Linked DNA regions of Homo sapiens: region 1 is linked to region 2. A link means that fine-mapping ties the variant in region 2 to the expression of a gene that starts in the linked region. Tissue or cell type: whole blood. Region 2 holds a variant in brackets; the other region holds the start of a gene. All regions are shown on one strand. Distances are between the middles of the regions.

Region 1 (4,000 bases), 56 kb before region 2:
CTGCCTCGTCCTCCCAGAGTGCTGGGATTACAGCCGTAAGCCACTGTGCCCGGCTCCCCTTTGCGTGATCCTGGTCCAGTACCTGTTTGCTCACAGATGCCACCTTGCTTCGTCTCCCAAGACCCTCTGAGCATATGGACTCTTTTTATCACTCTTAGGTAGTCAACTACAAGTTGATCTTTCCAAAGATTGTTTTATAGGAAAAACAAAAGAAGCCTGAGTGGCCACAAGAAAACTTGAAGATAAAGGTCCCTCCCCAAGATCCCCTGAATCCAGCTGGACTGGGAGGAACTGGTGGGGTCTGGGAGCAGCCCGGCCAGGGCAGTCTTCCCATGAAAGGCATTACCCCAGAGAAATCAAAGGGCTCCAACAAACCTTGCCTCACCCATTGCTTTTCCATTTTCGCCCCAGCCGCATTCTTTAGCGCACTGGGCCTTCCTGAACTGCCCAAACTAGACCCAGAAAACGCCACAGATCAGTGCCTGGAAGCCAGACAAAGAAACCAGGGTGTCAGGGAGGCAGAGGAGGCGGAGGCTCCCAAGTGCCGGCTCTGCAAACCTCCATGCAGGGGCAGCGGAGGCTCAGGCGACGCAGCGCCAGTCACAGCGCCTTTAAATAGAACCTCCACGCGGAGGGCAAACACATTCCATGCGCTTTTAAAAACGCCCAAGCATGACCTGGCCGGCGGCCTCAGCTCCCCCAGGCATTTTTCCGGTCTCGGCTCAATTCTGGAAATATTAATAGCTCGGTTAAGAGCTTACCGGGTGCAAAATACTTTTCGGCCTTAAAAGGCAGGGACTGTTACTGCTCCCACTCTCCAGATGAGGAAACTGAGATCCCCGGAGGTTCCAGGCGACGAGGTGGACTAGTGGGTCTCTATCGCCTGCCTCTGGCTCAGTGTCTCCCCAGGTGAGCGGCTCCCCGCGCACTGGGGCTCACAGAGCAGGACCGCAACGAGCCCCCGCCGGACCGGTGCCAGCGGCCAAGTTCGGTTCCCACAACCGCCCCCCCTCCCCGCGCCCCCAGGAGGCTCCCGGGCCGCGCCTGCTCCAGGAAAGTCCTGAATCTCTTACAACGACTTTACCAAACTCCCCGTTCTCGGCCTCCGCTCATTCATCAGACCCCGCGCTGCAGCCAAGGATTAACTTTCCCCTTTTGTTTTAAAAGATAAAAGGCCAACAGGGGCTAATTTTTCCCTTGGGGGGATACAGTGAAAGCTGGCAGGTGAGGCGCGGCGACGGCTCCCTTTCCTAGAAGTTGCTTTCGGAGCAAATCTCCGGACTGGCGGGCGGAGGGGGCGGGACCAGTGGTCGGGGTTGGGGGACCTGGAACTCGGGCCCGGCAGCCGCCGAGAACTTTTGGGCTCCGTCCCGGAGAGCTCCTGCTCCTGGTGTCCCCCCTCTTCGGCCCCGTCCCCCACCGCGCCGAGATAGACCCGAGCACGCAAGATCTGGCTGCGTTGGGCCAAATGCTACCTGCACCCCGGGACCCCTCCCCACACAAACAGGGCCCGGGACTTCGGACCAGAAAGCCCTCCCGCTCCCTCCCTGGTCCCGGGGGCGAAGGGCGCGCAGCGGGAGCTCACAGTTTGAACATGCTCTCCAGGTCCTTGATGAGGCGGCGGCTGAACTCCGGGAACTCCGTGTAGGGGTTGAAGACCCTGCAGCGCCGGGGCCGCGCAGCGCCCTCGTTGATGTCCAGCCGCCGGCTCAGCTGGGCGCTCAGCTCCGCGTCGGCGCTGGCCGTGGGCGCACGGGCGGGAGGCTCGGGCTCGGGCTTGGGCTCCGGGGCTGGGGCGCCGAGGGGAGCCAGCTGGGGGCCACTCTCCTCGGCCTCCTCGCGCCGCAGCCGGCGCTCCAGCTTGCACGCCAGCTCCTCACTGGCCATGGCGGCGGATCGCAGGACGCGGGAACGCGGGGACGCGGGACGGGACGCAGGGAGCTGGCGGGCGGCGCGCTCCTCGCAGGCTCGAGGCTCTACAACACTCCGCCGAGGCGGCGGGGACCCGGCGGTTGGGAGGGTCTGAGGACGGACTGGCGGGCGGGGCGGTCGGGGCGGAGCTGCGGCTTTAAGGAGGCGCCAGGGCTCAGCGACTGCCAGCCTGGTGGGAGGAGGCCGCCGGTGTCTGGGTGTCTGCGCGTCCCGGAGACCCCGACCTGCTTCCTCTCCCCGCGGCTCCGGGCGGGAGGCTGACCGTCCCCCCGGGACCAGGCAGGGACCCTCGGATCAACTCCGACCTTGCTGCCCCTGTCAGCTCCGGGGAAAACCGTAGCGGGAAAAAGCGTCTCGACCGTTCAGACGGTGCCTTTCTTGTCCCCCAGAAGTAACCCGACTGGAAGCGCTCGCGGCCCGGGACAGGCTGGGTGGGGGAGGCGAGCGCCCCCGAGCGACACCCACGCGTCCCCCGCGTCTGGGAGTGGTGCCCACCCTCCCCGGGGTCAGGGAGTGGGAGGCGCCCGCCCGGAGCGTGGGGCGGGGGAGCTGCTTTTCAAACACTCATTGGAACGAAATGTTTCCAAAACATGCTAAAAATACTAAAAACAAATAAGCAAACAAAAAAGAGAGAGAGCAAACGAGCAGAAAAAACTCCCGTTTTCCCTAGAGGCAGGAAAGCAGCGTAGCTTCAGGGACTCGGGTTTTTTTGCGTGAAACGCACAAGAAAAGAGAAGAAACCTGGCGCGGAGACTCACATCCGCAATCCCAACACTTAGGTGTTGGTGGCAGGATCTTTTGAGCCCAGGAGTTCGAGACCAGACTGGGCAACATAGTTAGACTGTCTCTACAAAAACTTTTAAAAAATCAGCCAGGCATAGTGGCGCTCGTCTGTAGTCCCAGCTACTCAGGAGGCTGAAGTAGGAGGATGGCTTGAGCCCGGGAGGTCGAGGCTGCAACGAGCCATGGTCAGGCCACTGCACTCCAGCCTGGGCGACAGAGTGAGACCCTGGCTCTAAAAATAAACGAAGAAGAAGGAGGGAGAGGGGGAGGAAAAAAGAAAGGAAAGAAGGAAAAGAAGCTTGAAAATTAAATCAGCATTTTTAACAAGAGGGTAAAAACAAATACAGTCGTCATTCTCCCCAAGGAAGGCTGATGCCGCTGTTACATCAGCCAGGCGTTGAGAATCTTGTAAACACGGGTCTGTCCCCACTTGAGAACGACGCTGCTCTGACCCACCATGGGCTGATGACTGGGGCAGGTCAGTGACCCCGCTGGACTATGGTTGTCTGAGACCCAGGGACCAGCCTTTGGCATGCGAGTGCAGGGCATGCGGGGGACCTGGGTTAAAATGTTATTTTTAAAAAGTTATAAAGGAAAATACGTTTTTTAAAGAAAAGTATAAAAATCTTTAACATTCCTACTGAACAACTTGACTTGGTACAGAGAATACGGGTTTTACATATACAATGGCAACCCTGCAAATAGATCACGGGGCGCTACACTTCCTGACCTGGTGGTGGTGACTAGAAGGTTGGCTTTGTTGTCACATCTGTTTTGACCACTTTATGTGACACATTTCAGAGAAATAAGGTCAAAAATTTTGTGTAATTAAACTTTTTTTAATTTTATATTTTAAAAACTTTTTTTTTTTTTGAGATGGAGTTTCATTCTTGTTTCCCAGGCTGGAGTGCAATGGCATGATCTCGGCTCACTGCAGTCCCTGCCTCCTGGGTTCAAGTGATTCCCCTGCCTCAGCCTCCTGAGTAGCTGGGATTACAGGCGCCCACCACTGCACCTGGCTAATTTTTTGTATTTTTAGTAGAGACAGGGTTTCTCCATGTTGGCTAGGCTGGTTGTGAACTCCTAGCCTCAGACGATCCTCCCACCTCGGCCTCCCGAAGTGCTGGGATTACAGGCATGAGCCACCACACCCAGCTGGTTTTGTTTTTGTTTTTTTTTTTTTTTAATGTTCTTATTCCATCGAGCTCTCCTCAAGAAAGAAAAAGTTCAAAATTCTTAATAGTCTCCATCAACAAGAAACTCTGGGGCTGGGCGCGGTGGCTCA
Region 2 (4,236 bases):
GAGCTGAAGGTTGAAAACAAAGTTAATAGGGTGGTCATCTTTTTAAAAGGCTAATGGTATTTTTAAAAAATTCTTTTCAAAAGGATAGACCCCTCTGAGATGCCACAAGTAGCTAGCAAAGGATAAGGAACATATCTGATCATAACACAGAGAAAAGCAAGCATAACTGGTGTGTGTGTGTGTGTGTGTGTGTGTGTGTGTGTGTGTGTGTGTATTTCTGAGTTCTCTTAGGGAAAATATGCTGTGTTACAGAGATGCATTACAAAAGACACTTTTTTTGTACCTACACTTAATACTAAAGAAAGTGATTTCACAGGAACAGATGGCTCTGTTCCATTTCTTCCCTTTTACAGGCACGTCTATGCCCACCTAATCATTGGACACCACAAGTCTATCAGGAGGGATTCTGCTCTTCTTATTAAAAGAAACTAGAAAGGCAGGGATATGGGAAGGTAGGAGCAGAGAATTTGCTGACTTGGGCAATTATCTATCTTGGAGTAAAGGAGATGGCAGGCAAGTGTCTGGCCCCAACTCTTTCAGCTGTTTAGTGACGGAAAAAGGATTTTCAGGGTAATCATTACCATAAGCAGGTCATCTTATCTTTTGGAAGAATTTCTCTATTGTACTAGGTGGGCCAGAAATAAATTCTTTCTCTGTAGCAGATAAACTGGAGAGCTCTAAAAACACTTTCTCATTCAGATTTTTTTTTTTTTTTGAGATGGAGTGTCACCAGGTTGTAGTGCAGTGGCACAATCTCAGCTCACTGCATCCTCCGCCTCCTGGGTTCAAGCGATTCTCCTGCCTCAGCCTCCCAAGTAGCTGGAACTACAGGCGTGCACCACCACGCCCAGCTAATTTTTGTATTTTTAGTAGAGACAGGGTTTCACCATGTTGGCCAGGATGGTCTCGATCTCTTGACCTCATGATCCGCCCACCTCAGACTCCCAAAGTGCTGGGATTACAGGCGTGAGCCACCGTGCCCAGCCTCATTCAGATACTTAATATTTTTGTTAATATAGACCACTTTATAGTCAGAAAACCTAAGAAATCATATTCTAAAGTCCACTTGCAAAGTGAAAAGGGGGAGGAGAAGAGTAAAGGAAAAGCCAGGAGAATCCAGCTGAGTTTTTCCAGTTTGATTTAAGAGGAAAACAGAACAGCAAATGGGGGTGGCCTGCTCCTGACAGTGACAGACTAACACAGGCTGGTGGCAGTGATGCCCTATGGCTTTGGTCCAGCCTTCTTTAAAAAAGTGGGTTGAGAACAGCTTGATGCCAAATTTGGTCTGAGGAATGTGTTCACCTCAAGCCAGCTGGGAAGTGATACTCCATCACATCCCTCACCCTAGGCTCAGCGCAGAGAGATTAGGAGGCAGAGAAAGGGAGAATGTAGAAAGGAAGGGGCAGAGGCCACAGGCGACCCCTTAAAAAACAATGTGCTTCTGTTCTTTTAAAAGCAAACTAAAATTTAGCAAATCCACAGTGAGTTCCTGAAAGCTAGCCCTCTAGCAATCTGGCAAAGCTGTGACAGCAAATGGGCTATGCTTAGGACACCAAAGAGGACACAGAAGCTGACAGTCCCACAATGCTGGAAGAAAAAAAAAGAATTATTTCTCTACCAGATGTTCCTTTGTCCTGATGATGTCTCAGAAATATCCGAGAGCCCCATTCAGACTGGCTTCCAACTTCACATTCCCAGGTATCTTGGGGAAAATCGTTGTCCAAATACTCTGAAACAGCTTTCCAATCTGCTCTACCTTAAAATGGTCATCTTTTAGTACTTTTAGAGAAATGGACAAGTTCCAACTCTGAAAACAATGAACTACGGCAGAGATTAACTCCTGAAAATGGATGACAGGGGGGCAAAGTGGTCATTCAGAATGTCCTCCCCTCTCTTGGGAGTTAACTGCCACTGTGCTGGTGCCTGGCAAAGGCACCTGAGTGATTCTGGGTTCTCAAGTGAAAGCTGGGAGTCATCCAAGGAGGAAGGCTACCTATGTCTCTGCTCTGAAGATTGGCTCTGAGGGGTCCCGTAGACCTAAGTGCACATGGTCTTCAGGAGAACATTCTTTGGCCATTAGCTGTACACCCCAGGCCAGTTCTGGCTTCCTCTTCTCTCCCTGCATATTCAGTAAAGCTGCAAACTCTTTCTAGTTTCAGTGAGGCAAATTCCAGTCTCTCGTCTTCAACTTTATTTTATTCCAACTTCATTTCCCAACAATACAGACTCACTGCTCTGTGTATACCAGCCTAGACAGCTGAGTAATCAGAATCCTTTCCTATCAGCTCACTGAGAGTTTTACTGAAGTCATAGTTAAAAGGGCAACACTTATTTCCAACAGGAG[T/G]CAAATGAAATTGTCCTAAAATACTAACAGTCACAGGTAATGACATAAAATAGCAGATAAATTGAGGAAAAATATTTGTGATTCATGAAGAATTATTTAAATAGCAGTTTCTCTGCCAAATTTCTTCATAGATCACAATCTATTTGGAGGAAAAAGAAAAGGGAGAGAGGGCTAAAATGTTAAGGGGCCTCTAAAATGGCAGACCCAACAAACGTAAGCCAGGGATGCATATCTTCTCGAACATCTCTTTCACTTACAGCGAGGTTAAATCAATAGAAATGCGACATGAAGTCCTTTTCAAGTCTATTAAGACAATGAAGTGAGTGGATTTTTTGTTGTTGCTGTGTAAATTCATTTTTCCCCCCTACTTTCAGAATAATTTTTGGTTTAAATTCAAACACTCTTCACGGACTTCCAAGCCTGTGCTTTAAGGAAAATACCTGAACCACGAGTGTTCTCTTCGTCTGCCTCCCACACTGTATAAAAAAAGACACGGGGGCCACAAAGAGACCACAAAATGGCAATTATGCAAATATATGACTTTTTACGGCAATTCAAAGATATTTTTCCTAGGGGATTAAATCTGCCAAGAGGGGTGGGAGTTATTTTGAGTTTTCTTCCATTCTGACTATTCCGCTTTCATTTTAAAGACTTTTCACTGAACCTCAGATGCCATCAATTTTTAAAGGTACATCATTTTATGTACTTTAAGAAGTAAACACTGCCCATTAAACTATGACAAAACCTTTTAAAATCACATTCACTGTAAGCATCCCCAGTTTTTTTTTTTGAGATGGAGTCTCGCTCTGTTGCCAGGCTGGAGTACAGTGGCATGATCTTGGCTCACTGCAACCTCCGCCTCCTGAGTTCAAGCGATTCTCCTGCCTCAGCCTCCCAAGTAGCTGGGACAACAGGTGTGTGCCACCACGCCCAGCTAATTTTTGTATTTTTAGTAGAGACGGGGTTTCACCATGTTGGCCAGGATGGTCTCGATCTCTTGACCTCGTGATCTGCCCGCCTTGGCCTCCCAAAGTGCTGGGATTACAGGCGTGAGCCACTGCGCCCAGCAAAGCACCCCAATTTTAAGAATATTAAAAGGCTTACAGAAGGAACAGGATTGAAAAAAAATATTAAAAGCCAAAAAAATCTTAGAAATAACTAAATATGGTAGTATTTTAAAAACAGCTCCATTATAGCACCTGGCTTCTGAAAATTTAACTTAATATCTTATTTCAAATATTTACTATTTTTTAGCCTAAAAATCAATGATTTATCTACTATTAAAGCTGGTACCTTTTTCCTCCCTCTTTGTGTATACTAGCAGCACTCCTGGAATTCTATGTTGACTATATATACAGACACTTATATATATGCACACATACACAGACATATATTTAGAAACAAGGGTCTTACTATATTGCCCAGGCTGGCCTTGAACTCCTGGGCTCAAGTGATCCTCCCACCACAGCCTCCAAGTAGCTGGGACAATAGGCGTGTGCCATGATACCAGGCACTAATGTTGACTATATCTTAAAGAGAATCATTTTAAATTTTAAGCCACCAGAAGACTGAATTTATAATAAAGAAATCAAACTATCAAAACAAAAAAGGTATGGGTGGCATCACTTGTGTGTGCAGGAACTCTGCAACTGTGTTTTATCTGTATATCATACCTACACCCCTGAGCTCTCAGGCCCTGGCCACCTGCTGCTGTCCCTCAGAGTGTCATCTTGTCTCTTCTAGCCCACGGGAGGGATGCAGGTCTCCTTTTCTGGAAAACGCTCGTCTCCTTCTAGGGAAGGGGGAATTTTGAGGTAGCTACTACAGTTGACATGTTCTGTTCCAATTTTACAACTACTCTATTTCTTAGGGATGTTAGTGGCAGGGGTAGT

What was found. PIP is the estimated chance that this variant, and not a neighbour inherited with it, causes the effect.
Region 1: EFHD1 starts here. The variant in region 2 is the best candidate, but not a certain one, in a credible set for the expression of EFHD1 in whole blood (INTERVAL, PIP 0.51).

Annotation. Positions count from the first base shown.
Region 1 is chr2:232,631,592-232,635,591 of GRCh38, reverse strand. It overlaps EFHD1 (EF-hand domain family member D1), which reads right to left and starts at 1,988. Exons shown (of 4, transcript NM_025202.4): 1 at 1,586-1,988. The coding sequence starts at 1,887. RefSeq lists silencers at 1,519-1,813, 1,891-1,950.
Region 2 is chr2:232,575,101-232,579,336 of GRCh38, reverse strand. It overlaps a transcript of EIF4E2 not described here. Among named protein-coding and RNA genes, the nearest start is that of EIF4E2, 27 kb to the right of the region's middle. The variant T/G (reference allele first, on the strand shown) is at 2,345.